Homo sapiens: one gene and its partners. The protein of the gene in region 1 interacts with the protein of each later gene in a pairwise test. Each region holds a gene or a part of one and is shown on either strand. Other genes may lie near its edges. The genes, in order: TPRG1, EBAG9, REEP4 and CIDEB.

The links.
Region 2: the proteins of TPRG1 (region 1) and EBAG9 interact in binary tests that used the Homo sapiens proteins (3 or more experiments, as listed by UniProt).
Region 3: the proteins of TPRG1 (region 1) and REEP4 interact in binary tests that used the Homo sapiens proteins (3 or more experiments, as listed by UniProt).
Region 4: the proteins of TPRG1 (region 1) and CIDEB interact in binary tests that used the Homo sapiens proteins (3 or more experiments, as listed by UniProt).

Annotation. Positions count from the first base shown.
Region 1 is NC_000003.12:189,167,562-189,175,150, reverse strand, and holds the start of TPRG1 (tumor protein p63-regulated gene 1 protein), read right to left. Parts: upstream 3,181-7,589; 5' UTR 3,020-3,180; intron 1-3,019.
Region 2 is NC_000008.11:109,535,422-109,543,438, reverse strand, and holds the start of EBAG9 (receptor-binding cancer antigen expressed on SiSo cells), read right to left. Parts: upstream 3,267-8,017; 5' UTR 2,978-3,266; exon of another isoform or gene 2,714-2,977; intron 1-2,713. Other genes in the region: EBAG9UORF (uncharacterized protein LOC139907707), read right to left, coding at 3,639-3,713. UniProt on the Homo sapiens protein: May participate in suppression of cell proliferation and induces apoptotic cell death through activation of interleukin-1-beta converting enzyme (ICE)-like proteases.
Region 3 is NC_000008.11:22,138,908-22,146,444, forward strand, and holds the start of REEP4 (receptor expression-enhancing protein 4), read right to left. Parts: upstream 3,001-7,537; 5' UTR 2,576-3,000; coding exon 2,544-2,575; intron 1,791-2,543; coding exon 1,718-1,790; intron 1,342-1,717; coding exon 1,265-1,341; intron 1,177-1,264; coding exon 1,056-1,176; intron 623-1,055; coding exon 509-622; intron 155-508; coding exon 19-154; intron 1-18. UniProt on the Homo sapiens protein: Microtubule-binding protein required to ensure proper cell division and nuclear envelope reassembly by sequestering the endoplasmic reticulum away from chromosomes during mitosis.
Region 4 is NC_000014.9:24,304,579-24,312,668, forward strand, and holds CIDEB (lipid transferase CIDEB), read right to left. Parts: upstream 3,400-8,090; 5' UTR 3,281-3,399; coding exon 3,240-3,280; exon of another isoform or gene 2,938-3,239; coding exon 2,793-2,937; exon of another isoform or gene 1,946-2,792; coding exon 1,796-1,945; exon of another isoform or gene 1,560-1,795; coding exon 1,369-1,559; exon of another isoform or gene 1,188-1,368; coding exon 1,055-1,187; 3' UTR 609-1,054; downstream 1-608. Other genes in the region: NOP9 (nucleolar protein 9), read left to right, coding at 1-20, 360-517; LTB4R2 (leukotriene B4 receptor 2), read left to right, coding at 6,087-7,163. UniProt on the Homo sapiens protein: Lipid transferase specifically expressed in hepatocytes, which promotes unilocular lipid droplet formation by mediating lipid droplet fusion. Lipid droplet fusion promotes their enlargement, restricting lipolysis and favoring lipid storage.

The DNA of each region.
Region 1 (7,589 bases):
ATATTCTGTCTTGCATTATAGTTACTTGTGTACACATTTTCAATACTAGATGGTAAGCCCCTTTGAGAAAGGGTCTCTACTCTTTACCCCTAAATCCCTAAGCTTAGGGTTGTATAATACACCATAGGTGATCAAAAGGTGATTATTATATTAGTGGGTGAATAAGAGAAAACATATCATTAAGCTAGTCTCTAGTATTTCAGCAATTTGGATTCTTTGGAAACAGGGCATTATATTGCTATCTATGTGCTATCATACATCATAATTTCTTTTCTTGTTTTTATGCCATTGATCGATTGAGTAAAGAGGATTACCCTGCAAGTATCAACTGTCCTTCCTATTCTTTTATAGGCATCTAAATATTATGCTGCAGCAGTGTCATCTTGCTTAATACTTTAGCATTCAAGTCACTGAGTTTTGATAGCTAGCTGAAGAAAATATCCTGGGTAGGTATCAGAGCCAACGGTATGTTCTACTGAAGTCATCATATATCCTATATCTCTTACATAGTGAGAGGTTAGGAACAAATAATTAACTTCACCTCTTCCCTGGTGCCATTAACCTGTAGCCTGGTCTGTCATTATGTAGAACTAGGTTTCCGTTGAAAGAGAATGATTGAAAGGAATCCTAATACCTAAGAGATTGGAAGAGATCAGAAGTGGAAAATTCAAACACTTGGTAGCCTAAATCAGGTAAAATGGGAGCTGTGGAGGATGGGGGAAAACATGTTCTATCTACAGGAAGAAGTTGCTGCCCGGCCCCAGCACAGGTGTTATCCATGAGGGGATGTGGGTCCATTATTATCAGATCTCCTGATCTTCCTGAAAACAAGATATCTGGATTTTTTACAGGAAATTTCCTAGATATCAAATACTTTGGAACTAGTTTTATCTTGTTTAACATGGCAGCACAAACAAAGCACATCTGCATGCTGGATTCACCTGTGGCTGCTGCTCTGCAAGCTCTGGAGTAAATGAATTCTCGGACTTGACGCTGCCATTAGATTAAACAATGTTGAGTAAAATATCAACTATCACTTCAAGTTTTAAAAGGATCAAACTGAGTGGCACTTATTTAGGAAGATCCCAGAAAATATAAAAATCCAGACAGGCTGAAGAAAATGAAGATGCCACCACCTCTTGCCCATCTCCCCATCTTATACCTAAGGAGCAGCTCCAACATTTGGCCGAAGCAAATATTCCAGAAGAACCAAGTCAATAAAGAGAGAGGCTTCTCTGACAGATTTCCCTGCTCTAAAGGGCATGATACCATCTCCAGTAGATGCTAAGCAAAGGTCAAAGTGCCCTAAAACTCTTAATTGGAAGAAATCTTAAAGGACATCTAGTTACAGTCTCCAAAATGACATGGCTAATGCTTCTGCTTGGGACTCCTAGCACCATTCACTACATATTGTGGGCAATGAAAGAGTAAGAGACCCATATGTGACTTGCAGCTCCAATGATACTGGCTGTGTGACTTGTGCATATCACTTCATCTTTCTGGGCCTCAGTTTCTCTGTTTTGAATAAAGTAATCAATTAAACGATTTCTTCAGGATCCTTACAGCCAGAAAGACACCAAGAATATATAGAAGTTCCAGCCTGACCAACATGGTGAAACCCCGTCTCTACTAAAAATACAAAAACTAGCCAGGTGTGGTGGTGCATGCCTGTAATCCCAGCTACTCAGGAGGCTGAGGCAGGAGAATCGCTTGAACCCGGGAGGTGGAGGCTGCAGTGAGCCGAGATCGCGCCACTACCCTCCAGCCTGGGCAACAGAGCAAGGCTCTGTCTCAAAAAAAAAAAAAAAGAAGAAGAAAAGAAAGAAAAAGAATATATAGAAGTCTGCCAAAGATTATATAGCATTACAACCCAATGCATTTGTGGTGGCCCCAAGGGATGACTATCAGTACTGTCATAATAAACTCAAACAGACACACACACACATACACACATGCACACACACACAGAGGAAACATTTCCTTCCACAACTAAGAATGATATAACCTTTTGAGCATGAAAAGAAAAATGATAGCTAAAATTAGCATCTTAAAAAGTAAACTACATAATAACTGAAGATGAGATTTCCTTAAAACTGTAGAACAATGAGATACTATGATAGCTGTCACAAGAGAGGAAATTGCATGAGTGTATTTGAAAGGATTTGGGGGTGTTTTTCCCCCATTGAGATTTGCTTTTCTACATACCACAGTGTGACTGAAAAGCTAAAATATTTCCCCAGGGCCTGTATGATCTGTGCCTCACTACGCTGCCTCTGACATTTGGAGAGTGTCATTTAGCCCCGAATTAAAACCTGCTTATACAGAGATCTGGAGGATGTCTCAGGCGCCAAGTAGTCATCGCTGTCTCATTTGCCTATCACCTTTCAGTTTACAACTCCCCTTTACATACATGCCCTCGTTTGTTCTCTAAAAACAGCCCTGTTTGATGGGACCTATATATTATTATGAAATTTCCCTCAGATGAATTCAAAAATAACCCTCTCAAACTGCCTGCAAAGAAATAATCACCTTTTGTTTGCCATTTAACGGTTCAGAAAGGCTTTTCACTTCTTTTGGCTTTTGGGGATAAGGTATGACCTGCTGGGTTCTATAATAGAGGAAGAGGGAAGAAGGAATCAAATCTAATCTTGGCCTTAACCTGCTGATCCAATTGGAACAAATCACTTCAATTGACCAAGCTTCAGTTCACTAAGCCACCAAATGGAGAAAATTATACCCATCCTACTGCACTATAGGGCAGTTAAGATCAAAATCAATATATAGATAAGTATGTCAAGTGGCTTTATAGGCTAAAAAATGCTAGCCTACAAGCCTCATCAACCCTGGACAGTAAGGAAGAATAGGGAAATTTCACATGGTAATGCAAAACTACAAACCTAAACCAAACTGCAAGTCAGTGGGGGAGGTGACCAGAAACTCGGCTTAGGGGACAGAAGCAATTGGTTCATAGAGAAATAACCCATCTCTGCAGAACCAGTGACAAGCCACTTGATCTTACCTGACTAGGCTGGTCCTCAAGGCTCTTCTTTCTCTTTCTGCACAAAGGGGGCTAGACCACAGATAGTGGCCAGGAGAGGTGTGATTGGCTCAGATAAAGCCAGGCAAGACAGTGCCCTGTGCTGTGACCCCACTCAGTCTGAATCTCACTTCACCAAGTAGGCTGAGAGTTACACTGCCACCCTCAAATAGTCAAATGAAAGGACTGAGGATGTTTACAGGGTGGAACTCAACCCGTCAGAGGCAGAGAATTGGGTTTGTGGGTGGGGCCTTTCTTGTTCTGCAATGACACACCTTTACCTCCTGTCCTCTCCCTCAAGAAGTCCTGCATTTTTCTGCCAACTCCCTCTAATACACATCCAGCTGAGGGAGCAGGAGCAGCCTATCATCCATTCCTCCATGGCTTCTGTATGCCTCCAAGTAGTTATAATTAAGCTTAAGCCTGAGGCCTACACTCCTATCATTAATATTCTTTATGATGGCTTGATTTATTGGATATTTGTGATTTTAAGCATCACTACCACTCTTGTCAAAAATGTAGAAGACATGTAGAGCAGTGTATCTCTGAAAACAAACACATGTACACACAATCTCTGGTCAGTATTCCTATTAGGAAATGTGCCACATGATATTGTCTCTATGTAAGTGTGTATCCCCCTCCCTAGATGGGGGGCCCCTTGAGGGCAATGCTACATCTTATTCTCTCATATACTCCTCAAAACACCCAGCAGATAGTAGGTAATAAATAAATACACATTGAATTAATGATGATCCATTAATATCTATTTAGTGAATCCTGATCTGTCATTTAATGGCTTTGCAGCCTATAGCAAGTCATAATCTATCTTTCTGAGGTTTTTTAATTTTGGTCATCTGTAAGTTGAGAGTATCATTTCTCCTTCAGAAATGCAGATAGAACTTGAAAGGAAGCATATGAGAATAAACCTAGGATAAGATTTGACATAGCAACGGTGCTAAAAAAATGAAATAGAATCTTAATGAACACATTCTGAAACCTAAGCAAGTGTGTTCTACATACAGAGTTGGTATAAAATAAAGTATGAACTGCACAAGTAGGTGGATTGCTGAAAGAAAGGAGAGCACAGAAAACAAAATGCTGTTATGTGTATGATTGAATTTCAATCTTCTATCCTAAATTCTCTACTTCATTCAGCAGACTCTGGCCAAATCAGATTGTATTTGTTTGATGGCTGGAGGAACGGGTGTGCGCTGACAAAGTAAATTGGTTGAATTCCATTCTTTTAAAAGAAAAATAACTAATATTCACCCTTCAAAAAATGTTGTTTAAAGTTCCAGGAATACTGAGGTCATGAAGCGATTCCACAGGAAATGAAGTGCAAACTGGCAACTCGCCACTCAGGAGAGGTCACAATGAATAAACAGTCCTTTTACCTGCTTCCACCGTGTCGAGGACGTCATGTATACTAACTCAACAGTAGTTAACTGAGCAACTACCTTGAGCTTTCTCAGTTATCCACATAGACAAGGATATGAAAAGGAACCAAACACATTCTCTGGCATAAGGAGCTCAAGAAGATAAAATTTGTAAGTGAATTAGCATTGCACGATATAGAAGATGATGAGCACCACAGACAGGATCCTAACAAGTACTATGGTAATCCAGAGGAGGGAGCAACTCCAGGAAGGCTGCACAGCGGTGGAGGCGGCATTAGATCCGGGCTGTTAAGAAGAGCCAGGATTTCAACAAGCACAGATGGTAGAGTTGGGTATAAATGTTATTGGTGAGATGGACTCAGCCACAGTTACCTGATCAAACTGATTTATGCCCCCTCCCTAATACAGACCCCAGGCTGAAAAGAGAGTTTTACAGAACCGGTATCTAGGTCACACCACTTAGACGCCACAAAACTACAGGGCAATTAGAAATAATTGCGAGGCAAATACCGTTCCCACTCAGCTCCAAATGTCTTTATGACAGCTCAGGGTGGGGGCACAAAAGGCAGGAGGAGTGGAGACATGCTGGATCCCAGCCTGGTCTCTTAAGAGAAGGACTAAGCAATGCACTGCTGTTTGAAGTATGCTATTTTAAAGGGCAAGAAACTCTGTGAAAAGACATCAATTGTTCACACGGCATCCATCTAATTATCGTTAGGTTTCCAGCGGCCACTGAACACTCCTCCCAGCTCATGCTGAGCTCCGCCATACTGCAGCCTGCAGTAACATAATACATCCAGGAGGGGCACAAGCAGTAGGAGTAATGCCACACGGAAAACCTCAGCTCTGGTCCCTGCTCAGCTGCTCACTGGGATCAGAGGCAAGTAGCTTAGTTTTCCCCAAGCCTTGATTGCCTCTTCCGTGCAATGGGAGTTACAGTACAGATCCCACCAACCTCCCTGGGCTGTTGAGGGAGAAAATGAGCTCCTGGAGGTGATAAGAGCTTTGTAAAATTCAAAGTATTGGTATGAATGTGAAGCAATACTATGACAGAACATATGGCTATATATAAGAATTCACTTCATGTCTGTATTTCCAGGCATAGCAAAGGCTATGTACAGATCTCCCAGTAGAGGACATGCTCAACAGCCAAGGAGCAGGGAAGCACAGAATAATTTTTACCAGATTGGCCTTCAGAGATCATTTCTCTCTGTGTCCTGTCTCTTCTCTCTCTTCTATAATAACCTTTACAGGCCGGGCCTGGTGGCTCATGCCTGTAATCCCAGCACTTTGGGAGGCCGAGGTGAGCGGATCATCTGAGGTCAGGAGTTCAAGACCAGCGTGGCCAACATGGTGAAACCCTGTCTCTACTAAAAATACAAAAATTAGCCGGGCGCAGTGGCGGGCCCCTGTAATCCCAGCTACATGGGAGGCTGAGGCAGGAGAATCGCTTAAGCCCAGGAGGCGGAGGTTGCAGTGAGCCAAGATCGCTCCACTGCACTCCAGCCTGGGCACCAGAGTGAGACTCCATCTCAAATAATAATAATAATAGCTTTTACAAATTATTGTTCTTCCTCTTCTCATTCAGCTCTAGTGTCTATGAGAAATAACGTATGTTGTTACTTATTTAGGTTAGGAAACACTGGTATGTTAGAACCCCTCTTCTGCCATTTTTCAAATGGGGATGGAGTGACATCCTGATGATCACACAAGCTAGTCTCCTCCCTGGACTCAGCAGGGCTGTTCTCTTACACACTGCCTGGGGCAGCAGATGGGCAGGAGGAAGTACAGGTGGCATGGATCCTGGTCAGGTATGAACCAGAATCACCTCATGTCCAGGTCTCCCTCATAGTGGATCATGCAGATAAAAATTGGTAAATAAACATGCATCACTGGGGGTAAATAGGTACTGTCTACAAGAATCCCATATCCCAACTCCCCAGATACACCCCTTGTCCCAGGAGTCTTTTGGGAAAGAGGAGTTCAATGACAATGAACAGATACTGGCAGCAGCTTTTGAAGTGAACAGGTACTAAGCAATATGAATTTCCCCTTCTCTTGCGTTCCAATAGTACACCACACACGTCACTAGTACCGCCCTCTTATAGTTAGTTTTCTTCCCCAATATGCATCTGTCTACCCTCTTTAAAGATAAGGACCATGTCTTAAACAAGACATTCTTTTTAGAATCTAGCACAGTACAATGCCAATAGTAGGTACTCAAAAGATACCTACTTTGACGGATGGGTGGATGAGTAAACGAATGAATATACAAACTACTCTGTTTTCCTTCACAGCCCTACAAGGCCTCACAGCTAGAGAGGTGACATTTCAGAGAAGGAGAAACAAAAAGCCCCTTCTGCTTTTGACAAGGGACTAAATTCAGCCCAAAGCATCTTTTTTTCTCTCTCTATTTACTCCGGACAATCTGTCCCTTATCAGATGAGCTCAAGGCTGGTTGGAAATATGCATATTTTATTTGAAAATATCTGCTTCCTCCAGTTTTGTTTTGCCACATACACATTTGTCTGCTTTGCTGTATGTTGTGTATCAGATAGGACTCAGACAAACTGCTTTGGCTTCCTAAACTGTTTTGTTTTCTCCATTCATTTATCATTGATCTCATTTCCTTCCCTGCATCTCACTCTTATTTCCAAGTTCCAATTTTATCCGCAATGAAAGAGAACAATTTCATTGTCGCACAGGTTCACTGAGGGCTAAAAAGGGCACTGGCATGGAAGTTAGAAAGCCTAAGATTTAGTTCCCATTCTGCCACTAACAAGCAATGTGACCTTCAGAGGATCGTCTCTTCTATCTTGGCCTCTCTTTCTCCTTTGCAAAATAAGGTCTGCTCTTGACAGCCACAGAATCTCGAAGTAAGTGCAATACTTCGAGACTCTCTGGATACCAATCTGCTAATGTTGCACCATTTTTCACACTCATTACAGATGGGGAAGAATTCTTGTATGTTTTTAGCTTTGGTTTGAGACCCAGTGAGGGTCCTCCACTCCAGATCCTCACCTGACTTTCTGATCCACCCCAACCAAGAATGGCTTCATGGGCATGCAACTCGTGCAGTTACACAGGCCTGCAGGTAGAAGGGCCTTGTGCTTGGTTTTGTTCTGCTGTTGTCATGTTGAAATTCTTAATAGTTC
Region 2 (8,017 bases), on another chromosome or scaffold:
ATAGTATCTGATCTTGATTGCTCTGTAAAGGCATCATTGCCAATTTCTTCTAAGGAAAGGCAAAACGCACACTAGTCTTTTCTATTTCTAGGGTCAGAAGGGGCTTGTAGGCTATTAAGGTACAAAGACAGGGCTCTAAAATGTTACCTTAGCAATACTCAAGTAGTTTTGTACATATGGAGGCTGTCTCTCCATATAAGCTGAAAGATTTACTGAATGCCTAACCTGGAAGTGGCCTACTAATTGACAGGATGAAAAGAACAGTGACTGTTAAAAAAAAAAAAAAAAAAAAAAAAAAAAAAAGAACCAGAATATTAAAAATTGTACTCGAGTTATTTAAATACTTCTGTCAAAAACATCCCAACCAGTGGTTTACTCAAGTTCAAATCATGCAACAATGCTGACTCCTCCTTTCTTTCTCCTTACACCTAATTGCCAAAAAGACCCTATTCAATTTCCCAGTACTGCCCATATTCTTTCCTATTTCCACTGTAATCTATCTAGCATAAGCCTTTACTACCTCTTGCTGGAGTACTGTAAAGTCTTCTTAATTCTAGTATTTTACTCTTCCCAAGAAACAACATTTTTTATTTTGTATTATGGTTATTTCTATACCTTACTTTGCCCTGTACAACCCTTCTCTAGAGTATTTTATTCATTTGGTACCTTCAGTTACCATTTGCAAAGTAAGACTTGAAAAAAAAGTTTGATTGCTTCATTATGAGTAGAATGATCTGAAAAATTATGATGGTGAACAATCACTTCATTTAAAGCTGATTTGTCAAGAACAAAACTCTCAATCAAAAGAAAACTTTCTCAAATGAAAATTAGCCTAAATTTTCTGAAAAATTATAAGAAAAAAGAGCCAGAAAAGAGACTACAGAACGTGTGGTACTTGGCAGGGAAGGAAATAGAATCAAGGAGATACTCTATCAGTATGTTGTGAAGAAAAATGATATTTACCATTTGGGACTGTCAGTTTTAGGATATACATGAATAAAAGTTGAGAATAAATTTCATAAACTGCCCTAGTAACCACAGCCATCACCTTTCCAAATATTGTTAGTGTCATTGTTTTATAAATATTTGCCAACTTGAATAACTTCAATGCTAACTGGAGGTAAAATTTAAAGGTTGTTTTTTTTTTCCCAATAAAAAATAGAAACTGGGTCTTTTAGTGATTACAGAATAGAATTCTCTCCCTAGCAATCAAGAATATCCTCATTCTGCAGAAAACTTCCTTTTGTGATTAATAAAAGAGGAGAACTGATACTCATTGACTGTCTACTATGAACCATGCACTATCAAAATGTTAACACACAACTCAAAAAGCCATCTTATGACATAGATACTATTGTCCTTGTTTCATTGAATTAAACACAGAGTAAGCACATCCAGTGACTCCATTCAAACCTAGGTATATTTAATTCAAAAGCCAAGAACATCTCATGAACAAGGAACATTCTTAATAATTCAGTGATACTACCACTTCCAAGATAAATTTTCCAACCAGTTGCACTAAAATAGGGAAAATGCGATCAAGCCACACTTTGATTTTATCAATCACACTGACTGGCAGGCAGGAATATCCTTTGAGACCTGTATTTACTTAATGTCCCTATTCATCTAAATGAATATATATTAGCACCTACTATGTTTCAGTCGCTACTTTGGATTTGGAAGCTGGGAAATACTACCAACTCCGCATGGGGAAACTCTGCGTTCACTCCCAGTTGTCATGAGCTTGCCCATAAACTTATCCCTGAGGAATGCAAGAAACTAAGGAGGCAGGACGTCCATCAGTCTTGCTCATTCTGGTATTTATAGGTCTCAGTCAAAGCCGGGCACATAGTAGGTACTCAAATATTTGTTGAATGGAAGGAAACTAACATTCCTTGAGCACTTGAACGCTCAAGACAATGTTCGATCACCTCACTGGAATCCTAAGGACAACCAAAAGAGGTAGGTTTTTCACTACTCCCGTTTAATAGATGAGGTTGACAGACTTAGATTCACTTACCCAGGATTTAAAGGGACTGACCCGAAAGCCCAAGGCTCTCCCTACATCATATCCTACTTAAGAAACCTTTTAATTGTGTGCACATTGCCTCAGTGCGATTTTTGAAATGCCCTCTAGATCACCAATTTGATAAGTATCTTACGCTACTTTACACTTTAGTTGCTTTAAAACACTTTCTAGAACGGAACAATGTTAATATAATCTAATCTTAACATTAAATTTCCTTAAAAATTACAAAGACAAAAATTTGAGGTATATCAGAATGAGATTCAAAACTATGAGGCAATGTATCCTCATTAAGGCTTTTTGAAGAAATGACAACTCTAGGAAATCAAGAATGAGAGCTCTGCCATGTTAACGGAAAAAAAATACAATTAAAAAAAGAATGCTACATTAGAAACTGATAGATCAAATGTATTATATCTTTTCTTGTTGAAATTCTCGGTAAACTGCTAGAGGTCCTTTCAAGTAGCCTCAATACATCACAATTCACAAAACAAGCAAAGCCAAAATCTATGTTCGGTACATACTAAACAGGTGCTGTATTTCTAAAACTCTATTTACGAATCTTTTCATACCAAAATTTGAAAACCATATGATCTAGTACAGTCCAGAATATCCTCAAACTATAACTCTCTGAAGTGGGTTAGAAAATATTACAAAGCTCCCAAAATAAAATTTACCTGAACTCACTTAAATTTGATAAATAAAGGTTTGAGCAGCGGCCCGTAAGAGAAGGGGAAACAGAAGCGGAGTGTGAGAGCTGGTAGTAAAATCGAACATTCTGTGCCATGTCTGGCAACCGAGAGTCAGGCCCTCAAGTATGTGACACCACTGGGGCGGTTCCGAAGGCGGAGTAAGGTCTCCAGAATAACTCAAAAGGAAAGAGTTTCATAACTTAAGTGGTTTCATTTCAGATTACCCACGTGAAATTTGTTGATGAAAAAAAAATCATACCCACTGCACAGATGAGAAAAACAGGAGCGTTTTCAGGTTATACAAGCCGACGCCTGGCGCCCGGCGTGACGTGAAACGCTCTAAGTTGCTGGAGCTGGATACCAGGTGAACTGAGATTTAAATTGTGGAAAAATCGGCCTGGAGAGGTACAAGGCCTGTAGACGGAGGGCAGTAAGGTCACGCAAATTTCCCTGAGGAAGGCGGCTTTGGAGGCTGCGTGCTTTCCGGGCCGGTACCCCACAGCCCAGTCTCCCACGCGTGAGCGGAGCATGGCGAATGCTGCACGCCTGGGTCCCGCTCCCAGTCGCAGTTTCCTCACCCCAGAGGTCACCCTGACCCGGAAACAGTACCCAGAGCAGCTGTCGGGCGTCGAGGGAGGTCTGGTGGAAGGGCGAAAGGAAGGTGGGAGGGCGGGAAGTGCGCGGCTAGGCGGAGGGCCGACGGCGAAGGGCAGACAATGCCCCAGAGGCTAGGGCTGGGGTCGGGATGGGGGTAGGGAGAGGAAAGCCCCTCCCAGGCACGCGCGAACCGCACACACTCACCTGCCCCTCCCCCTCCCCGCCCGCCCGGCGGAGGCTCCGAGCTGCCGCGGGCCGCGCGCGCACACAAGGCGCGCTCACGCGCGCTGCCTGTCTCTTCCTCGAGCTCGCGCTCCGCCCGCTCACTCCCAGCCCCGCTCATTCAAAGCCGGGCGCGCGCTCCGTAGCAGCCTGCGTTGCCTCTGCGCAGCTGCCATGGCCGCCCCTTCATCGGGAAACCCGCCCCCAGCCCCTCCTCTAGCCCCGCCCCCAGCCCTCCTTGAAGGCGGCTCTCGGCTGTCTCCAGGCCCTCGCTTCTGCACTCCGCCTCAGGTCCTGGCTGGCCCAATAGGTGAGAGGCTACGGGTCTGACGTCGAGACTGGGAGCCAATGAGCCCTGGGAGCGGGGCAAGCGGCGACAGGCACGCCAGGTTCGGTGAGGGGTAGCTTTTTGGGACTATTGCGAGCTGCTTTGACTGTTTATTCTCGGAGCGCCTGCTTCTGCCAGATGTCCCTACTTTCCTTCTATGCAGAGTGCCTCCCCTCCAGCAAAGTCCCTTTCTGTTCAACCCACAGAACCCCTGTGTCAGATGCGACCAAGGAAAATACACTGCAACAAATGAGGGATCTCCCTCTGTCTCAGGAAGATTTGGATGTGGCTAGACAGACCCCCTCCCCTCAGTCATTCCGCCACCTCAAAGATGTGGAATGCTGAGTTTAATTCAAGACGTAGCCTCCTCCCAGTAATTTTTAATTGAATTGTGTTGAACTAGAAATGAAGAAGTGGCACTTCACCGTGTCCATGCATTTGTTCCTCACATGCACCCTGGACTTGCCCTTCTTTCAACCTGAGATGTTCTTTCCTTCAGTGCTTCTCTCTTTGCAGCCTGATTCTTCTTTTTATCTTGTATGCTATGAAAGGGGTTGTTATGTGCAGGGGACCCTCAGAATACTATGCTCCACAGTTGCAAAGTGACTGGTGAGGGAGAAGTGAATAGGGTCTAAGGCCAAAATCAGTTTATGCAAATTGTTCTCAACAAGCCTTTTTCTTTATATGCCTTTAATTTTTTTTTTTATTACAGCTGCCTTTGTTCTCCCACCCTGACCCAGCAACCACCTACCCACTTAACTTTGTGATAATCTACCACAACCGTCCTCTTTCCAATTTGCACCACGTTTTTTATTAATAATTTAATTTCCAAGACGGGAAAGATGTGTTTATGGCTCGTGCTCTGGAATGGTTCTGTGTAAAGTTGGGTAAAATTATTTAATCTGTTCACCTCAATTTCCTCATCAGTAAAATGGCCATAATAGTGCCTACTTCATGCAGTAGTAATGCTTGCAAAGCTCTCTTAGCACAGAGCCTGGCACATAGCAAACATTCATAGATAACAGTTGTTGCTGCAGCTACTACTACTACTGCATTACTATTGCATTACTACAGTATCATTTCCGGTAATTGCATTTCCCAAAGGCCATGCAACCCCTTTCAGTCCCTTAAACACCTGCTCTAACTTTAATCTCTAGAATTCTAATGCCTAAATTTCAATATAAAATTTCTAAATTTTTTTTGGATTTAAAAAATCGAGTTATCTAGCTGGGCACGGTAACTCATGCCTGTAATCTCAGCACTTTGGGAGGCCGAGGCAGGAGGAACGCTTGAGCCCAGGAATTTAAGACCAGCCCAGGCAACGGGCGAAACTCCGTTTCTACAAATAATTTAAAAATTAGCCAGGTTTGGTGGCGCATGCCTGTAGTCCCAGCTACTCAGAAGGCTGAGGTGGGAAGAATCACCTGAGCCTGGGAGGTCGAGACTACAGTGAGCCATGATTGGGCCCTGCACTCCAGCCTGGGAGACAGAGCAGGACCCTGACTCAAAAAAAAAAAAAAAAAAAATCCAAAATAACCTATATTCGGATATAAACGTGTTTAAATTTTTTTTCTTAAAGAGTTGATTGCTTTAGACAATTTATTATGCCCAAGGATATTTTCTTCTTTTTCCTGATTCTTCAGTTTTCTTTATTAAATTTGCCATTTCCAAATGAAACAAAACGAAATGTATATACTTTTCCAGAAACAGCTAGTTACTGAGTACTTGTTTCCCAACACAATAGCAAAACAGAAAACAAAGCTCGCTAAAGACTGCAAATTTAAAATTTACTTTAGTAATACCTATAAAATAATATTTTAAAATCATCTTTACTTGTTAAATAGTAAGCCCATAATTGGGATCACAAGTCAATAATTTGGGATTGGGTTTAGGGACCACCTCTTGGGAACAGGGAACTTTAAGTCCTGTCCTCTCCCCAAAGCTTGTGTGGGACGGGGGTAGGAAACCACCAGATGTCAAATGGGAGGAACATAAGGGATAGAACCTGGCATATGAATTTCTTTTACTCAATGGAATATAGTAAATTCTGTCTGCTCTGTGTCCAAACCATTTTGCTCACTTTAACGCTTCTGATCAGCCTCTGCCCAATTACCAGCTTGATTTATTCACACTATCAACCTCCAGCCCACCACTTACTCTCCCCTTTCAAAGCCTACATAGGCTTTGTTCTGACTTCTCCAGCTGGGGCTAACTCTGGCCTTGTCACCTGACCTGGCCCAGGAGGTAGGAGCAGACTGCAAACACAGCCCTCTGCTTCCAGATCTTTCCCAACCCAGTTCCCTGGCTTTTCATCAAAGGGTGGGTTTTTTTTCCCTCAAACACAATTTTAGACCTGCTGTTCTGACTTGGACTTTAATGGCTTTTTATTAATGAGCAGCTGTTCACAGTTGAATACAAGATCATAAAGTCACATTCATTTCTTGATCAAGTAAAACAAAGCTTTGCCGCACATAGAGTGACATCTTTGAGCAGATACATTTGAAAGCATAGGATTTTCTGATGAGAATTTTAATGAATTGTTTTATTAATCTTCCTACTGGAGAATTTTACTTGCTTTCAAAATAATAAACATTAATATTCTGGAAAATTATAACTTCTTTTTTAATACTCAAAATCACCATATACTAGTTAGGGTCAATTGCCTAATAGAGAAATCAAACAGTCTGAAGCAGATTTTTTATTTCTTTTCTATTAAATGAAAATTAACTTTCTATGAAGCATTTAAATAAATTTTTCCTCATAATTGTTATTACAATTAGCAGTAACTTTTATTGCTAAATACAGGAAGATTCAAAATTTAGTAACAATTTAGAGTTAACCAGTTTTCTTCAGAAGGGGCCTGGTTAGAAATCAAGAAAAATAATACATATATTTTAGTAGAAATAAATTCAAATGAAAAGATGAGGTGAATTCTCATTTTGTGTTCAGTGGTGAGGTTCAGCCACATCATACTTCTGGCTAATGTCCACATCGTTATTAGATTTATGACAGAGTTCAGCTATATTATGAATTAAGTAGAGTTGATGGGAACAGCATCTGGCAGTCTAAGACCTTTTGTTATTTCTAACAGTAAATGTATTGAAATTCATACAACCAACATAAAACAGTAGTTTGTAAATCTATCTTGTACATGGATTGAGAAAGTAGAAATAAAACAACATGAAACAATGTGAGACTCATTCATTGAGCTACAGCATGATGGACATCGTGACTTTGACCTTGAACAACTTTAAGCCTCAGTTTTCTCATCTGCAAAATTAGGTTAGTAATTCCTGCTTTACGGATTTATTTTGCAAATTAAATATCATACCATATGTGGAAATGTGTTGGAAACACAGCAATAAAATCGGTGAAACCTTTGAAGCAGGCAGATTTGTTATCTTCAAGATCAGTACAATCCCCTTTAGCTCACAACATGGAATAGTGCTTCCAAGAAATAGAGGTGAATTTTATGTCATCAGCAACCAGAAGTAGACATGTCTACTAGCAATATATTAACAAAGGGAAACAGGGAGGGACAGCCAGAAGTCAACCCTCCATACCCCCGCTTCTACCTTCTTTGTTCCCTTCTTTGTTCCCTTTGTTTTAAAGGCATAGGATGAAAGAGCAGCTGTCAGAACTATGACACTTACAATCCTTCCCCTCTCTCTCCAGGCTTTTATGTACTACTCATGGGATATTTATTTCATACCAAGATCTGTTGCCAAGTTTTGTCTATTCTTTCTTCTCAGTGTCCATCATTTCAGCACATCTGGATATCAAAATGATCTGCTAACTTAGTCTTTTGTATTTTACTATTTTCCTTCCTCTAAGTCAGTTTGTTACTTTGCTGTCTGATTAATATAAATATTGTTACACCTTCTTCATAGTAACTGACCTTTTTAAATTTTCCAGTGTCTAATTCAAATTCACTTAGGAGGATATGTGTCTTGATTGTTGCTTTTTAAACTCTTAATTTTGAATTGTTTGTTTGGGGATCTCCCTCTAACCACCCATGCCCTTTAAGACATACCAGAAATTCTTGTTAAAGGAGTTGGTCTATGTATACTGTACATTTCATACAGTGAAAATTAATTTAAATCTATATTTTGTACGTAGTTCTTATTTGAAATTAAATCCTTTAAGGATTAC
Region 3 (7,537 bases), on another chromosome or scaffold:
GCCCCTCTGCCCGCTCACCAATGGGTGGCCTCCGGTGGGACACCTGGTCCTCCAGGTAGAGGGGGTCATGGTAGGCAGGGGCAGGTGCGTCAGAGATGGAGCGCAGGTCCTGCATGGAGAAGCTCCGCAGCCTGCCGGCCAGCGCCCCCTGACTCTGCGAGGGGGAAGAGGCTTCAGCGGGGAGGCTGCCCAGGGATATTGGCCAACCAGCTAATCACCGGAGCTGAGACGCAGAAGTGAAAACTGCTCAGCAAGCTTCTGGCCCCGCGCCAATGTGGCACCAACAGGAAACCAAAGTCAGAGAGCAGGAGCCGCTGCTTACGCTCAGTGCCAGAGCCAGGAAGGAAGGTCTGACTCCAGCTCCACGCTTCTGCCAATACCCCCCCGTCACCTTCTCACCCCTGCTCCCCGGCTGCCATCTCTGGGCTCCCTGGCAGAGGAGCTGAATGAGCCCAAAGGGCCTTAGGGGTGGGATGGGGGCTGCTGGAGGGCTGGGGGCCCAGAGCACCTTGGTGGCAGCCTGCACAGCAGCGGAGGCGGCAATGTTGAGGCCCCGCTTCCCGAAGCTGAGCACGGTCTCGTAGCTGCGCTCCTTGGCCTGCACGATGTACGCGTCGATCTCCTGTGGACCCAATGGGGAGGAGAGCTCAGGTGGACAGCCAGAGTCCCTCTTCCTCTGCAGATTCTGAGAAGCCACTGGTTGTGGCGCCACCCAGCCCAGCCCAGCCCCACCTGGTGCCCAGAGCCACAAATCCGGGCCACAAACACAGACCAAGAGCAGGGCTGCCACCCGCTCACACCTCCATGAGTGGCCATGCTCCAGCTGCCGCCACCACTACCCCCAAACCAATTTCCATCCTCAAAGGTCATTCATGTGTACCCCCACCTGATTATCCCAGAAGATGAGGTAGGCTGGGCCCTGTCAAGGTCCTGCCCCTCAATAGCAGCAGGACTGGGATAGAACCCCGGTGTCCCCAGCATCCTAAATCCCAGGTCCAGGGCTCTTTCCCTCATACCCACCCCTAAGCCTCCCTTCCCGCTTCCCCCTGGGGTACCTTCTCATGGCGGGACAGGGACGGGTGGACAAACTTGCGGTAAAGCAGGCTGGCGCCCTTGGTGTAGGGTGAGAGCAGCCACAGCACGAAGGCCATCTTGATCTCATAGTAGAAAGGGAACCTGTCACAGCACAAGGGGCAGGGTGAGCCAAGGAGCAGGGCTGGGGGGGCCACCCCTGACCCATGGCTTGCGGACCCTGCGTCCATACCAGGAGATAAAAATGTCTGTAACGATCTCTGCTGCCATGAAGAGTGCAAAAACAATCCAGTACATCATCCACCGCACCTGTGGGGTGAGCGCCCAGAGGTCAGCATGGGGCCTGCAGCACCAACTCCCAACCCAGGCCAGCCCAGCCCAGAGATTCCAGGGAGCCTGTCCGGCTGCATAGCTGCTTTCCCCCACACATGGCTGGACAGGAGCTCTGAGAAACTGCTGCTCATTCCTATGCCCGCCTCCAACAAGCTTCACCCACCAGATCTTCCACAGGCACCCCGATGGCCTGCCCTCTATCTACACCCTCTTGAACAGGGCCCATTCTCTCTCCCTCCCCACTCCACTCAGGATGTGCCACACAGCCTTGCCCCTGGAGGAGGGAGAGGCCAACTGAGACCCTCCCCACCTCACCAAGTCCTATTAAACACACCCAAACCCCCACGCTCACATATTCACGAATGTTCTTGGTCTTCACAGCCTTATAGGAAGCATAAGCTGGACACAGCATCCCAAACACCAGCCTGGAAGAGCAGCCATGGGGAGTGTGAGGGGCACCATGCCCCACTCCCACCTTGCCAAGTGGCCATTTCCCCCCACTGGGGTGCAAGGTGGCAGTACCCGCCCTGTTTTTCTCGCTTGGCTTGTACAACCCGTGCCTGAGTCAGAGCCCTGGAGGCCACCTCCCCACCCTGCTGTTTACAAACATCCCAAGCCTGCCCAGGCCTGCACCGGTGGCCCATGGGTGCATGATGGAGTGAGAGGACAGCCACTCCACGAAGTGGGTGAGAACACCAGACTGTCCCCTCCCATGGGCATGCAATCAGGCCCAGGGTCACCAGACCTGACACTGCTGGGTTGCAGATAGGGCTATGTGAGCCAGATGTTGGCATACTCAAAGGTGAGGAATAGGATGGTGAGTCATGTGACTGCTCAGATGGCAAGCAGGCACCTGGATTCTCCGCCCACAACGTGCCATATCACCTTGTGTTTGCCAAGGGGCAGCAAGGTAGGCCTGTGGCCCTCGGCTCCACGCATCTGTTTGCAGTGTGTGTGGCGTGCGGCAGGGGTCGTTCTCAGCCAACGAGGCTTGGTGGGGCGGGTAGCCTGCGGTGCCCCAGACACCGCGTGCAAGCCCACAGGTCCGTTAACCCTTGCATGGAGTGCTGGAGGGTGGAGCTCAGAAAGTTCCTCCTCCCACTAGACGTCCACAGCTTCCACCACAGGGGCGGGACGGCACCCCGGGGTAGAGGAGGTCTGAGGGCGGCCATACTCACACCACCAGGCGACAGATCATCCAGGACACCATCTTGCCGGCCTTTGGGACGTGGGGAGGACCCCAGGAAGCCGCTCAGAAGGACGTTCACTCAAGGGCTGGGACGGGGGGTGATCAGGGCAGTTGCGGGAAGCAGAGGGGCGATCCGGCTGTCCCTCGGCGGAGGCAGAGCCCGCCGCCCACGGCCTCCGACTGTGCAGTTCAGGGGACCTGGAGAATGGGGAGACCCGAGGCAAAGCGGCCCCGGCGGGGAGGAAGCCGACTTGGGAGCGGGCGCGCCCCGCGGCCGGGGCAGTTACAGCTCCCACCCGCCCTTTCTGCCGCGGAGAACCTGGCGCTCGGCCCTTGCTGCTGGTCCCGCGCTGGAGCGGGTCGCCGCGGTTCCAGCGCGCCGGGCCACCAGCACCGGCCTACAGGGCGGAGTTCGCAACTCACTTGAAAGTTGCACGGAACCGAGTGCTGCCCAACCCCAGGGCTCCGGCTTGCCACGCAGGCGCAGTGTAGCCCCGGAGGGGGCGGGGCGAGGTCAGGGAGGCGAGAGGCCGGCCCCTTAAAGGGGCGATGTGCCGCGGGACTCGCGCGTGGGGCCCACAGTGGAGCCACCTTCCCAATCGGAAAGATTAGCGTGTGGGAAGCTGTAACAAAAAAGCAGGGGGAGTGCGGGGGTCGGCACACAAAGAAAATCTGGACTCCAGAGTTTAAGCGACCCTTCACTGGCTTTTCCCGGTGTCTTTCCCTCTCGCCTCATTTTCCCCTCTGTGAACCGGGTAAAGGCATGAGATGCGGTTGGTGGGGTAGAGGGAAGGATCTCCTCTGCAGGCTCAGTCAGGAGCTGGAAGGAAGCTTGGCTGAGCGCCAGCAAGTCCGGGTCTCACACCAGTGGGTCCAGGAGGGAAAGGGGGGAGGTGTGGGGGGAGAGGGAACCTGAGGGACTTTTTGCCCCACCAGGTTTCAGGGGTTCCCTTCTCTCTGGGATGCCTTTCCAGATCCCTGACTCCGGGGCAGGCTGACCGCGATGATTTGAGGCATTCTGGGTAGAGCTCTCAGCTCCCACACTCCTTCAGCAGAAGTTTGAAATTCCACCTATTCCTCTGAGCCAAGTACACAAATAACCCTGGGCCCTTAATAGTAGTATCAACCATTGCCATTTTGTAATGCACGTTTGCACGCAAGGTCTTAGTCTTTGCAAACTTCTTTTAACCATGTAGGAAATAGGATGCTCAGTGGTGAAAAGTAACTTTCCTGGTATCACCCAGTGGTATTTATTGCTGGCTGGTGGCTACATGCTTGGCTTGATCAGTCTTCTGAGAGATCAGCAGCTGCAGGCTGAGTGGCCCTGCAGAGGGCCATGGAACCGGATAAGTTCCTCTGGGAGGGAGGCAGATGCCAGGAAGAAGGGGGAAGGCTCTAAAAAAGAAGGCAAACGTTGCTGCTTCTACTACTTGCCCTGTGAGGTTTCATTCTTTTTGACATCTTCAGCTTACTGCCTCTGTTGTTCCCTCTGAAAATAGTGTCCCCCCACCTTGCAGAGGGTGGGAGCAAAGCTGTCCGGGCATGTGGGGTGGAAACACAGGCAGTTACTGCTTTTTATTGGAGCCACAGTTAACCCCCACCAGCTATCATAAGGATGGAATAGGTAATCATGGGGCCAGGGAAAGGAGGCTTCTGGGGGATAAATAAACACACGGTGATTATATGGTCTTAATTACTGTCATCAGTTTTATTGGTATTGCTGGGTGTGAGAGCCAGCAGTGAAACCAGCCCACAGGAGAAACTTCCCCGAGGCCCCATGTCTCCCTCTCCTCTCTTAACCAACCCTCACATTTACCTGTCCCCCCTTACACACACACATTGGAGTAACCAAAAAGGCCAAGGGCTAGAGGAACTCCTAAGGAAGGCCCCAGCCACTGTCCATCTTTAGGCACAGACATGGTTCTCTAGGTGAAAAGTGTCCTGGGTCTCCCTGAAGGAGGAAAGCTGTGACTGAATAGGGGAGCAGCTGAAAGGGACATCCATGACTCAGGAGGTCACTGCACACGTGAGCCTCGGGTCCTTTGGTGCGTGCTGCAGAACTGTCCCTTCCCTGCTGGCTGCCTTCTGGGGCCACGCACCTGACCTCAGCATCACAGGCCTCTGTCTACCCCCATTTGCTGGGAAACATTACCTGGGCCCGCCCAAAGCTCATTCAGCTGGGATGGTCTCCCGTATGGAGACTCCTGGTCCCAATGCCTGTGCTTGGGAAATCTCAGAGAAGAGATGTCAGAGGTCTGCGCTGACAGCAAGGCTCAGCACGGAGGGCAAGAGGCTGGCAGCTGAGGAGTGTCACCATCCCTGGTCTTGGCAGAGTGAGTAGACCTTGCCTCTTGCAGCCTTTGGTCCTGAGCTGTTGACACAGTCACCCAATTCCACTGGGTTGCTAAGCAGCACTCTGGACGTGGACAAGCCCCAGGGCAAGTGACCCAGCAGGCACACACAGAAAGCCAGGCACTCGGGCCAAGGGAGGAAAGTGCCTCCCACCCCTCAGAAGAGCTCCCCCCTGGGGGCAGCAGCTGTCAAAGTGATATTTATCTTTCTACTGGGCAGCAGAGTGCCAGCGTGTCTGGGAGACTCAACCCACTTTCCCTGGCAACCTCTCCCAAGCACAGGATAAGGGCCCGTTTCCCATTTGGAAAAGAAGGACAGGCCTCCCCAGAATGATGGAGGTGCCTGCTAAGCTAAGAGCATATTTGAGGAGGTGAAAAGCAGGTAAGTCACCTATTGCTGGGGGTGAGGAGGCCAGGTCAGAGGCTGCAGGTAAGATATGGGGCACAGGGGCTCCAAGACTGAGGATGGGTGAGGAACCATCACCCACAGACAGTTCTCTCCAAAGATCCACCTCCTCCTCTTGCACAAAACACCCCTCTCTGAGCCACTTCTGTTTTCATATATTCCCATAGACCAAGGCAAATCATAATCATGTGCTGGACACACTATACAAATGGACTTACATATACTAATGCATTTCACTCTCATGAGAAATAATCCTGTCAGGGTAGGATGCGGTGGCTCATGCCTGTAGTAATCCCAACACTTTGGGAGGCCGAGGACGGCAGATCATTGAGGTCAGGAGTTCGAGACCAGTCTGGTGAACATGGTGAAACCCATCTCTACTAAAAATATGAAAATTAGTCAGGGGTGGGGGCGTGCTCCTGTAGTCCCAGCTACTTGGAAGGCTGAGGCAGGAGAATTAATTGAACCTAGGAGGCTGAGGTTGCAGTGACTCAAGATCGCACTACTGCACTCCAGCCTAAGCTGGAAAAAACAAACAACAAACCCTGTCAGGTAGGTATCACGATTATACTCATTTTATAAATAAGAAAAACCGAGGCACAAATAGGCTAAGTAACGTGGCTGAATGTTACTAGCTGGTTTCACCCGGCTGGCAGAATCAGGAACCCATGAAGTGGGGTTTTTAAATCTGCTTCACAGAAGGAGAAATTGAAGCTCAGGGAAATCAGCTGACTTGCTTGAAATCTCACACCATGGAAAGGGACTGAGCCAGAATTCACACCCATGTTATCCAGGCTCCAGACCCCACTCCTCTGTGCACAGCTGCTCACAGGTGCTCGCTGAAGAGAGAGAAACGAAGGGTTTTTGTGATATGCGAGAGCTGAGAGGGGCTCTGGAGGACAAATGAAAACCTGGAGACTCAGAGAAGGGATTTGACCTGCCCAGGGTCACACAGCAAGCACCACTGCCCAAGGATCTATCATTTCCCCCGTTTCCATCCCCTGTCCCTTACACTGTCACCAACCCACACAAGGCCACAAAAGGATTTCATTTACTCAAGCCCATGGGGGAAGAGGAGAAAAGGGGTCCCCACAGCTTGACAACACCTGTTTTGCCATTCAGTGTGCTGTCCCCGAGACCCCATTACTTGCACTGACACCCTGAGCACTGTCCCCCACCCGGCCCCCATCTGACTGTCTTAGACTCTCTCGACTCCACTCACAGAGATGTTGAGGGACCCTGACTGCCCACAGGGCTTGGGTGTGTACGGTGGGACCAGGTCACAGGAACCTTCATGGTGGGCAGAGGCTCATGGGTTTGTTGAGCAGGAAGCCAAGGCAGGTTCCTGAGCAGGGGAGGACAGGAGGAAAGTGTGTGTTAGAAAGATCAGACCGATGGCTGAGCGTGGTGGCTCACGTCTGTAATCCCAGCACTTTGGGAGGCCGAGACAGGCGGATCACCTGAGGTTGGGACTTTGAGACTAGCCTGGCCAACATGGTGAAACCCCGTCTCTCCTAAAAATACAAAAATTAACCAGGCGTGGTGGTGGGCACCTGTAGTCCCAGCTACTCAAGAGGCTGAGGCAGGATAATCACTTGAACCTGGGAGGCGGAGATTGTAGTGAGCCAAGACAGGGCCACCTCACTCCAGCCTGGGCTACAAGAGAGAAACTCCATCTTTAAAAAAAAAAAAAAAAAAAGCCAGGCTCAGTGGCTCACGCCTATAATCCCAGCACTTTGGAAGGCTGAGGCCAGCAGATCACCTGAGGTCGGGAGTTCAAGATCAGCCTGACCAACATGGAGAAACCCCGTCTCTATTAAAAATACAAAATTAGCCAGGTGTGGTGGTGCATGACTGTAATCCCAGCTACTCAGGAGGCTGAGGCAGGAGAATTGCTTGAACCTGGGAGGCAGAGGTTGTGGTGAGCCGAGATCGCGCCATTGCACTCCAGCCTGGACAACAAGAGCGAAACTCCATCTCCAAAAAAAAAAAAAAAAATCAGACTGAGAAGCGGGTTGGTGGGGGCTGGCAAGGGACCCAAGACAATGGGCGATGAAGAGTGTTTGGACAAAGCTTTGAGCTGGGAAAGAGCAAAACAAAAAAGTGCCCATCTAGCAAACCTTTGGGACAAAGAATGGAGAGAACTTGGTGGCTTATGAAATATGGGAGAAGAGAGATCCAGATGTCACCTAGGACTCCAAGGCCTCATCTGGGTGGATGTGGCGG
Region 4 (8,090 bases), on another chromosome or scaffold:
GGAAATTGCTGCTGAGCTTGGTGAGTACCAGCCCCTCTCTTTGATGTTTCCAGACTCTCCCCTCTCTTACTCCAGATCACTGGGTAGCTGGGAAGTCTACTGAAATTCAACAGTCTTTAGTTCCAAAGGGTGGTCTTGCTCATGGGTTCTTAGCAGTCTGCTTTCCCCTTCCCTCCCGCTGACTGATTGTGTAGTCCTCTGCCCTCACCCTGCCCTCTGACTTCTGTTCTTTGGAAAGTGAAGTGTTCACTTTATCCCAGTGGCAGTCCCAGGGTCTGGGGGAAATGGAGGGATCTTTACGTCAAGTAGAGTCTGTCTTTGAGCATGGTAGTACTAAACATGAGTGGTTCCCTTTGCAGGGGAGCAGAACCAGGAGCTGATAAGAGACCCTTTCGGCCACCATGTGGCTCGAAATGTGGCCTTGACTACCTTCCTAAAGCGGCGAGAGGCTTGGGAACAGCAGCAGGGTGCGGTGGCCAAGCGGAGGCGGGCATTGAACTCCATACTTGAAGACTGAGGCTTTGGATCTGGGACTGGGTGTTGATGGGGGAGGGCAAAATGGGGTATCCACCCCATCCCTTTCCTGGTTTAAATTGGAGTCAGAAGTCTTAGTGGTAAATATTTGATATTTTTATTGGAAATGTTTTTGTTAGTTTGAGGGGAAGGGTATGAAGACAGATCTCAAGGTAAAGTCAGAGAGGGCTGTCATCAGTATGCTGGGGAGTTTAGGGACAGGAGGCATTGGTAGGGGATTAGATGTAGCAGCAGTCAGGCTGGGATCAAGATGCCTGGGGGACATCTTGATCTTGGCCTTTCAGGGCAAGTGGGAGGCCAGAAAGGTGGCTAGGAAAGAACAGCATTCTTCAGGTAAGGGTATAGACTTGGGATGTGAGGCGTTATGCTGAAAGGTTCTGTCACGAGGGGATCAGAGGACAGTGGGGAAATTGGGTGGGTTATCTAGCCTGTACTGTCTGCAGGTCCTGAAATTTGATGCTGTCATAGTCTTTGCAGTGGGTCGGTTGGAATGATTCTGGGGGCAGAAGCTCAGAGCCCCTTAGTAGGAATGGAGGCGGCCCTTCTGCTGCCACTGCTCAGCCCCCTCCACTGCATGACGAAGGGTGGAGGAAATTCCCAGCAACATATGGCCCAGGCCTTGCAGCAGTGTGGAGGTCCAACGAAGGAGCTCCCTGAATGGCAGAGACAAGAGGAAATCAGATGATTTGGAAAACTTGGGAGGAAGCCATCAAGCTGGGAGATGAGGACTTTCCACAAGCAAGAGCTAACTAGGGGTAGGTGGGTGCAAGAGGACGAATTATGGGGACTATCCAACTGTAGGGGATGGGGCAGTATGACATGTTGATTTCTGACCTGAGTACTTTCTTTGGGCCAAGTCCTTGAAAGTCACAACTCATAGAGTAGAGCCCGTAGAATGTGGCTTTGACATTCAGGCTGCCAAAGAGGTCTCGAGGGTTTTGCTTGTACACGTCAAAGGTGAATCGGGCGATGTCCTTGCTGTGCTTGGGCCTCTCCCGTCCCAGGCCATATGACAGCACTCCACTCTGTAGGACACCCTTGTCAGTGCAGTAGATCCTCATACCAGACACCCACCACTAATCTCCATCAGCACTGGGTCAGACCCTCCCTCGCTTGGACTTTCTGTCCACTGTGTGACATCCTTGACAATTCCACAACTCCTCCTGCACCTGGTCCCCAGGATCAGGGTTAAGCTAGAGAGGAAGCCCGGGAAAGCTCTAAAGGACAGGCATTGGAAGCAGCCCCAGTATAGGCCTCTTACCCTTGTAGGGCTCCAGCTCTGACCAGACTGCAACACCATCAGGCACGTGTCATCCTCCAGCAGCTGGAAGAAGTCCTCACTGTCCACTGCAGTTCCATCCTCCTCTAGCACCAGGGTTAGCACTCCATTCAGCAGTAGGGTCTCCAATGCCTGCCCAATGGCAAGAAGCAAGAAGGGCAGGTCTTATCCCATGCCCCTTCCCTCTTTAGCTGCCCAACATCCATCAGTTGGCTCTAGACATTGGTCGATGTCCCACTTTGACTTTCCGGCACTTTGATACCTCCTAAAGGTTGCAGCTCTCCGTGTTCTTCAGTTTTTGGGGGATCCTAGCTAGAGGCTGACCTTTTTCCTCTTTGCTCCTACCATGTCATTGGCATCTCCCCTTGCTCCCCTCCAAGTCACTTCTGGTTTGGAATTGGAAAGCAAGCCAGGTTCTCACGAAGTCCACCCTTCTGTCTTATCTACAATGCTGCACCTCACTTCCCACACCCTCAAGAGTTCTCCAGAAGTGTTTTCAGTAATAGTGTTTAACCTTTTTGAGTCCTTACTCTGTGCCAGGTATGAGGACTTTACCTACATTATCCTCTTACTCCTTTCAACAACCCTAGGAGGTGATGTATTATTATTGCCTTTTTATAGTTGAAGAAACTGAGGTTTTGGTAGGTTGAACAACTTCCCAAGGTTTGACAGGCAGGAAGTGGCAGAATCAGAATTTGAACTTGATTTGTCACACAAATCACCTTTCCATACTAGCTTCTGAATTCTGTCCCTCGAACTCTCCCTATCTCCTGCTAACCCCTGCTCCCATAGAAAAGCTCACTCGGTGGAAAATGAACAAATTGACCAGAGCTCATTAGGCCCACTCCGCTGCTTTTAGCCCTCAGAGGGAGGGGCAGCTGTGTGACTTCAGCCCTCTGCTCCATCATCACAAGTTGCCACTGTTGTGGAGCCCCTTGGCTACCCCTGCTATAGGAACCGAGGAACTTGGCCTACTTACTTTGGCTAGCAGCTCCTGGCGGGTGGCAGCTGTCAGGCCTTTCCGGATGGTCCGCTTGTGATCACAGACACGGAAAGGTCGCTGGGGTGGTGGAGCTGAGGTCCAGACCCTCCGTCCAAACTCCGAGCTTATATTAGATACTGACCTGGTAGTTGAGAAGAAAAGTCAAGAAGGGGCGAGGAGGGGCTTGGTGAGTGTAAAGGGCATGATGAGGGTAGAGTGGCTAGAGGGCTAGGGAGGGAGAGATCTAGGTTTATCGATTAGGGATGAGGGAGAGACCATGGAGTGCAGGTGGGGGCGGGTGGCTCAGGAGCTTGACAAGCCCACTGTGGAGTGGGGAGCAGGAGAGGAAGGGGTACTGGTTAGTCTCCTAGGGGCTGAGTGGAGTATTGTTGCCCTGCCTATATCCCCTAAAGGTGGAGGGTAGAGCGGAGGGTTAGCAGTCACCTGAGTAAGTCACTGGGGTTCAGAGCTGAGAGGTACTCCATGGTGGACCGGAGAGTTCCTTCCCTGGAACTTCTGGGCTGGGTGGTTCTCTCCTGTGCTGGGGCTTTAGTGGTGTTTTCTGTTACAAACCTGGGATCTCAGCCCAGGACAAGGTGGGAATGAGTCAAGCCTGGACTCTGGCCCCCCTGCCTGGCCAGTAAGAAGGGCAAAGTCCAAGGGGAGGGATGAGGGAGGGGCCAGATGGGGTCCTGGAGGAAGAATTGCCTGGCAAAAGCCATTGGAGCTTGTATGTGTGTCTTTGGTGATGACATGTGTTGTGAGGGTAGATGGGAACCATGTAAAAGGATGAAATGTGACTTCTGGTGTTTTTTTATTTCTATGGAGGGAATTTCTGGGGACGGTTTCTGGCTCTCAGGCTCTGAGAAGCTGCAGTTTATGAGTGGCTCTGTGTGTGCTGCCACCTACTGGAGAAGCCATAAGCTGCAGCTTTAGGAAAAGGGAACCCGGGGCAGAGTGTGGGGAAGTGGGATGGCAGCATGGCAGGGCTTTGGAAAATGAGAGGTGAGACTGTGTCCAGGAAGGGTGTAAGGAGAGGATGGATCCTGATACATGGATTCAGGATCATTAGGGTCCTGTCTGGGACACTGGCCTTCCTGCTTACCTGCTCTTTCCTTCCTCCTTGGTCGGAGGAGGGGCTGGCTCACTGCTCTGGCTTCATTTTCCAGAGCTGCCTGCTGCAGTCACACTTAGGTCATCTTCTCTCACTTTTCTCCTTTTGCCGATTAGTGGACGTGACAGAGATGTGAATGGGGCAGGGATGTCCTTTGATGGCATCAAGACTTTAGCTTCTGGTGCGCTGTGTCCCAGCTCTGATTTCAGTTGCAGCCGTGATGGACAGTTGCATGGAAGCTGAGACTCTCACTGACAGTGAAACCCTCAAATGAACACAATCCCTGCTTTCCTGCCAAGGATCCTTGTAGGGTCCCCCAGCTTCCCCACTTTTTTTCTGTGTCCTGACAAAGAAACACAGAGTAACTTGATTGCCCTGTGACCTGGCCAGTTGCATTTCCCCTGCAGGCTTGAGCCCAAGCCAGAGCCTTGAAAAGGTATTCAGGTTGTTGCCCAAAACACTGAAAAAAACTGGCCCTGGCCCTGAACCAAATACCTTGAACCCTCGTAAACTCCATACCCTGACCCCCTTGTTTTGGATATACCCAGGTAGAACAACTCTCTCTCACTGTCTGTTGTGAGGATACGCTGTAGCCCACTCATTAAGTACATTCTCCTAATAAATGCTTTGGACTGATCACCCTGCCAGTCTTTTGTCTTGGGCAATCTATACTTTTCTCAGAGGTTCCCAAGGCCTACTGAAGGGACTTAACATACTCTTAATGGCTTTCCTCTCTCTTGTTTTACCTTATGCCCTCACTTCCTGAGTTAACCTCCCAAATACAGGATCACCTGTACCCAAGCCCTTAGCTCAAGAATACAGGATCACCTGTACCCAAGCCCTTAGCTCAAGCTCTGCTTTGGAAGAACCCAAACTAAGACAGTGCTCCTGGTGCCCTCCCCAAGCAACCTCAAGTTCTGGCTGTTACTTGAGCAGAGGCCTTTCTTTTCCCTTCCCCCAGCTCTATCCATCTGCCAGGCCCCCCTCAAATCTCTTCATTTCCAAGTTTTGCTTGACTTTTCCAAGAGGAGAGGGCTGCTTCTTAGTATGTCCCTACTCATCCTTTCCTTTCTTGTCTTGTATCCTGGTGCAGCCTGGTAATGGGGCCTCTTCATGGTTGTGTGTCATGACTCCCTAACCATTATGCCTCCATGCATCCCCTGTTCCTCCTGGAACCTAGCACCATGCCTTACATGGAAAAGCTGTCATTGACAGCCCGGTGAGAGCCCTGAGGGTGGAGTGACTGGGGCAGGGCCTGAGGCAAGAGGTGGGAGGAGGTAGGAGGCCAGGGGCTCAGCCGGACCAGGAGACTGGAAACAGGCAAGGATAAGGCAGGTGGGGGACTGAGTTGTTTGGGTCACCTCTGCAGGCCAGAGAGACCAGGCAACATACACACTGCAGAAGGTGGGCTGGGAGGATTGGGGCCAGAGCTGGGGGAGGGATGAGAACAGAAGCAGGACCAGGATTCAGCAGAGTCCTCCTATTTCCTTCCACCACCAGGGAATCTTACTGCCCCACTTCAGCTTGTGCTGTTTCCTGGCAAGGCAGGCTCTCACATGCCTGGACGCCTGGGTGCGTTGGTGATGGGAAGGAGCAGGGTGAGGGAGGGGCCCCAGGAGAGGCCCAGGATGAGCCTCATCTTGTCCCTCCCCATTCTTGTCTTACCCTCTGCAAATGTGATAGGCACAGGACAGGAGTAGGCACCTCGCCTACTGCTGCTTAACCTTTCAGCTTCTCCAGGCCCCCAATCCTGCTTGCTCCCAGCTTGGTAAGTAGATCTGTGCACGTCCCTTTACACCCCACCATCCAGTTTTGCCCAGATGTGCTAGAATGGGGCTGGACAAAGAAGGAGGGGCCAGACTAGAGGAGTGGTGGTAGAGATAGTGACAGCCTGGGGTGATGACTTTATGCCTGTTTACCACTGAGCTCTGGGAAGGAGGCCAGGAGTGGGGCAGGTCAACTGACTGGGAGCAGGGGATCTGGGTTCCAAGAAGGAGTTGTGTTTGAGGTGGGGTCTGGGTCCTCGTGGAAGTCAGGACTCCCAGGCAGAAAAGAGGCAGGCTGCAGGGAAGTAAGGAGGAGGCATGGCACCTTCTCATCGGGCATCACAGGTGGGGTTTTGCCCCACCCCTGAACGCCCTCTGTGGCGCCTTCCACCCACCTGTAGGCCCAGAAGGATGTCGGTCTGCTACCGTCCCCCAGGGAACGAGACACTGCTGAGCTGGAAGACTTCGCGGGCCACAGGCACAGCCTTCCTGCTGCTGGCGGCGCTGCTGGGGCTGCCTGGCAACGGCTTCGTGGTGTGGAGCTTGGCGGGCTGGCGGCCTGCACGGGGGCGACCGCTGGCGGCCACGCTTGTGCTGCACCTGGCGCTGGCCGACGGCGCGGTGCTGCTGCTCACGCCGCTCTTTGTGGCCTTCCTGACCCGGCAGGCCTGGCCGCTGGGCCAGGCGGGCTGCAAGGCGGTGTACTACGTGTGCGCGCTCAGCATGTACGCCAGCGTGCTGCTCACCGGCCTGCTCAGCCTGCAGCGCTGCCTCGCAGTCACCCGCCCCTTCCTGGCGCCTCGGCTGCGCAGCCCGGCCCTGGCCCGCCGCCTGCTGCTGGCGGTCTGGCTGGCCGCCCTGTTGCTCGCCGTCCCGGCCGCCGTCTACCGCCACCTGTGGAGGGACCGCGTATGCCAGCTGTGCCACCCGTCGCCGGTCCACGCCGCCGCCCACCTGAGCCTGGAGACTCTGACCGCTTTCGTGCTTCCTTTCGGGCTGATGCTCGGCTGCTACAGCGTGACGCTGGCACGGCTGCGGGGCGCCCGCTGGGGCTCCGGGCGGCACGGGGCGCGGGTGGGCCGGCTGGTGAGCGCCATCGTGCTTGCCTTCGGCTTGCTCTGGGCCCCCTACCACGCAGTCAACCTTCTGCAGGCGGTCGCAGCGCTGGCTCCACCGGAAGGGGCCTTGGCGAAGCTGGGCGGAGCCGGCCAGGCGGCGCGAGCGGGAACTACGGCCTTGGCCTTCTTCAGTTCTAGCGTCAACCCGGTGCTCTACGTCTTCACCGCTGGAGATCTGCTGCCCCGGGCAGGTCCCCGTTTCCTCACGCGGCTCTTCGAAGGCTCTGGGGAGGCCCGAGGGGGCGGCCGCTCTAGGGAAGGGACCATGGAGCTCCGAACTACCCCTCAGCTGAAAGTGGTGGGGCAGGGCCGCGGCAATGGAGACCCGGGGGGTGGGATGGAGAAGGACGGTCCGGAATGGGACCTTTGACAGCAGACCCTACAACCTGCTGCCCTTCCCTGTCCCTTTCCACCCCCCACCCACCCTCCAGAGGTCAGTGTTCTGGGACATTTGGGGACCCTTCTTTGACTAGAGTTTGGATCTGGCTGGGTAGGATTACTATACACTTGGGGCAGGCCCAGGCTCCTCCAAACTGAGGGATTATGAGGGTGGTGATGGTCCCTGTTAAGGACTATTGTGTGCTTGCAAGTTGGCATGTACCCATGTGCCAGCATTGCTTACTTGTTGCCAATAGCTGTTATTGTGAAATACACTGGGAAGCCATTAGATGATGACTTAAGTGTGCTTCCCCTGGTGGTTCTTCATGCCTGAGTTGTACTGAAGCCACCTAGTTCCCTGCTGGGTCAAGCCAGGCTGGGCAGTGCCAGCCTTCAGTGGCATCTTGACCTGCCCTCCTCAGCCCAGGTGCCCTGGTTCCACAGGCCAACCCATAGAACCACTCTGGAAATAAAGGAGAAAATGGAAGGAGAGGTATGGGAGCTTGGATGAGGGGTAGGAATGGGATCCATTCTCTGAGGCTTATAAAAGCCTCTGAGGAGGAAATGGCTCTGAAGGGGAAAATGAATCTGTGGGGTTTGAAAAGGAAGTTTTCCTGCCTGTCTTGTATTTGGTCCAGTGAGTATGAGACAGGCACACAAGGAGTGGACAGTGGTGTAGGGGCCCTGGGAGTCTGAGACTTACCTTGCCCCCTGACCATCTGATCCTCCCTGCAAAGGCCACCTGACGTGAAAAGGAGCCAGGAGCAAGCACTCAGTCAGGGAAGTTTGGAGGTTGGCCATTGGGGTATGAGGAATGGCAGGAATATTTAGAGGACAGGAATAATTTTTCAGAGAAGTGCCACATATTCTTTTTCTCTTTGCCAAGTCTGGGCTCCTTCTAAGATGCTGCTAGCTATTC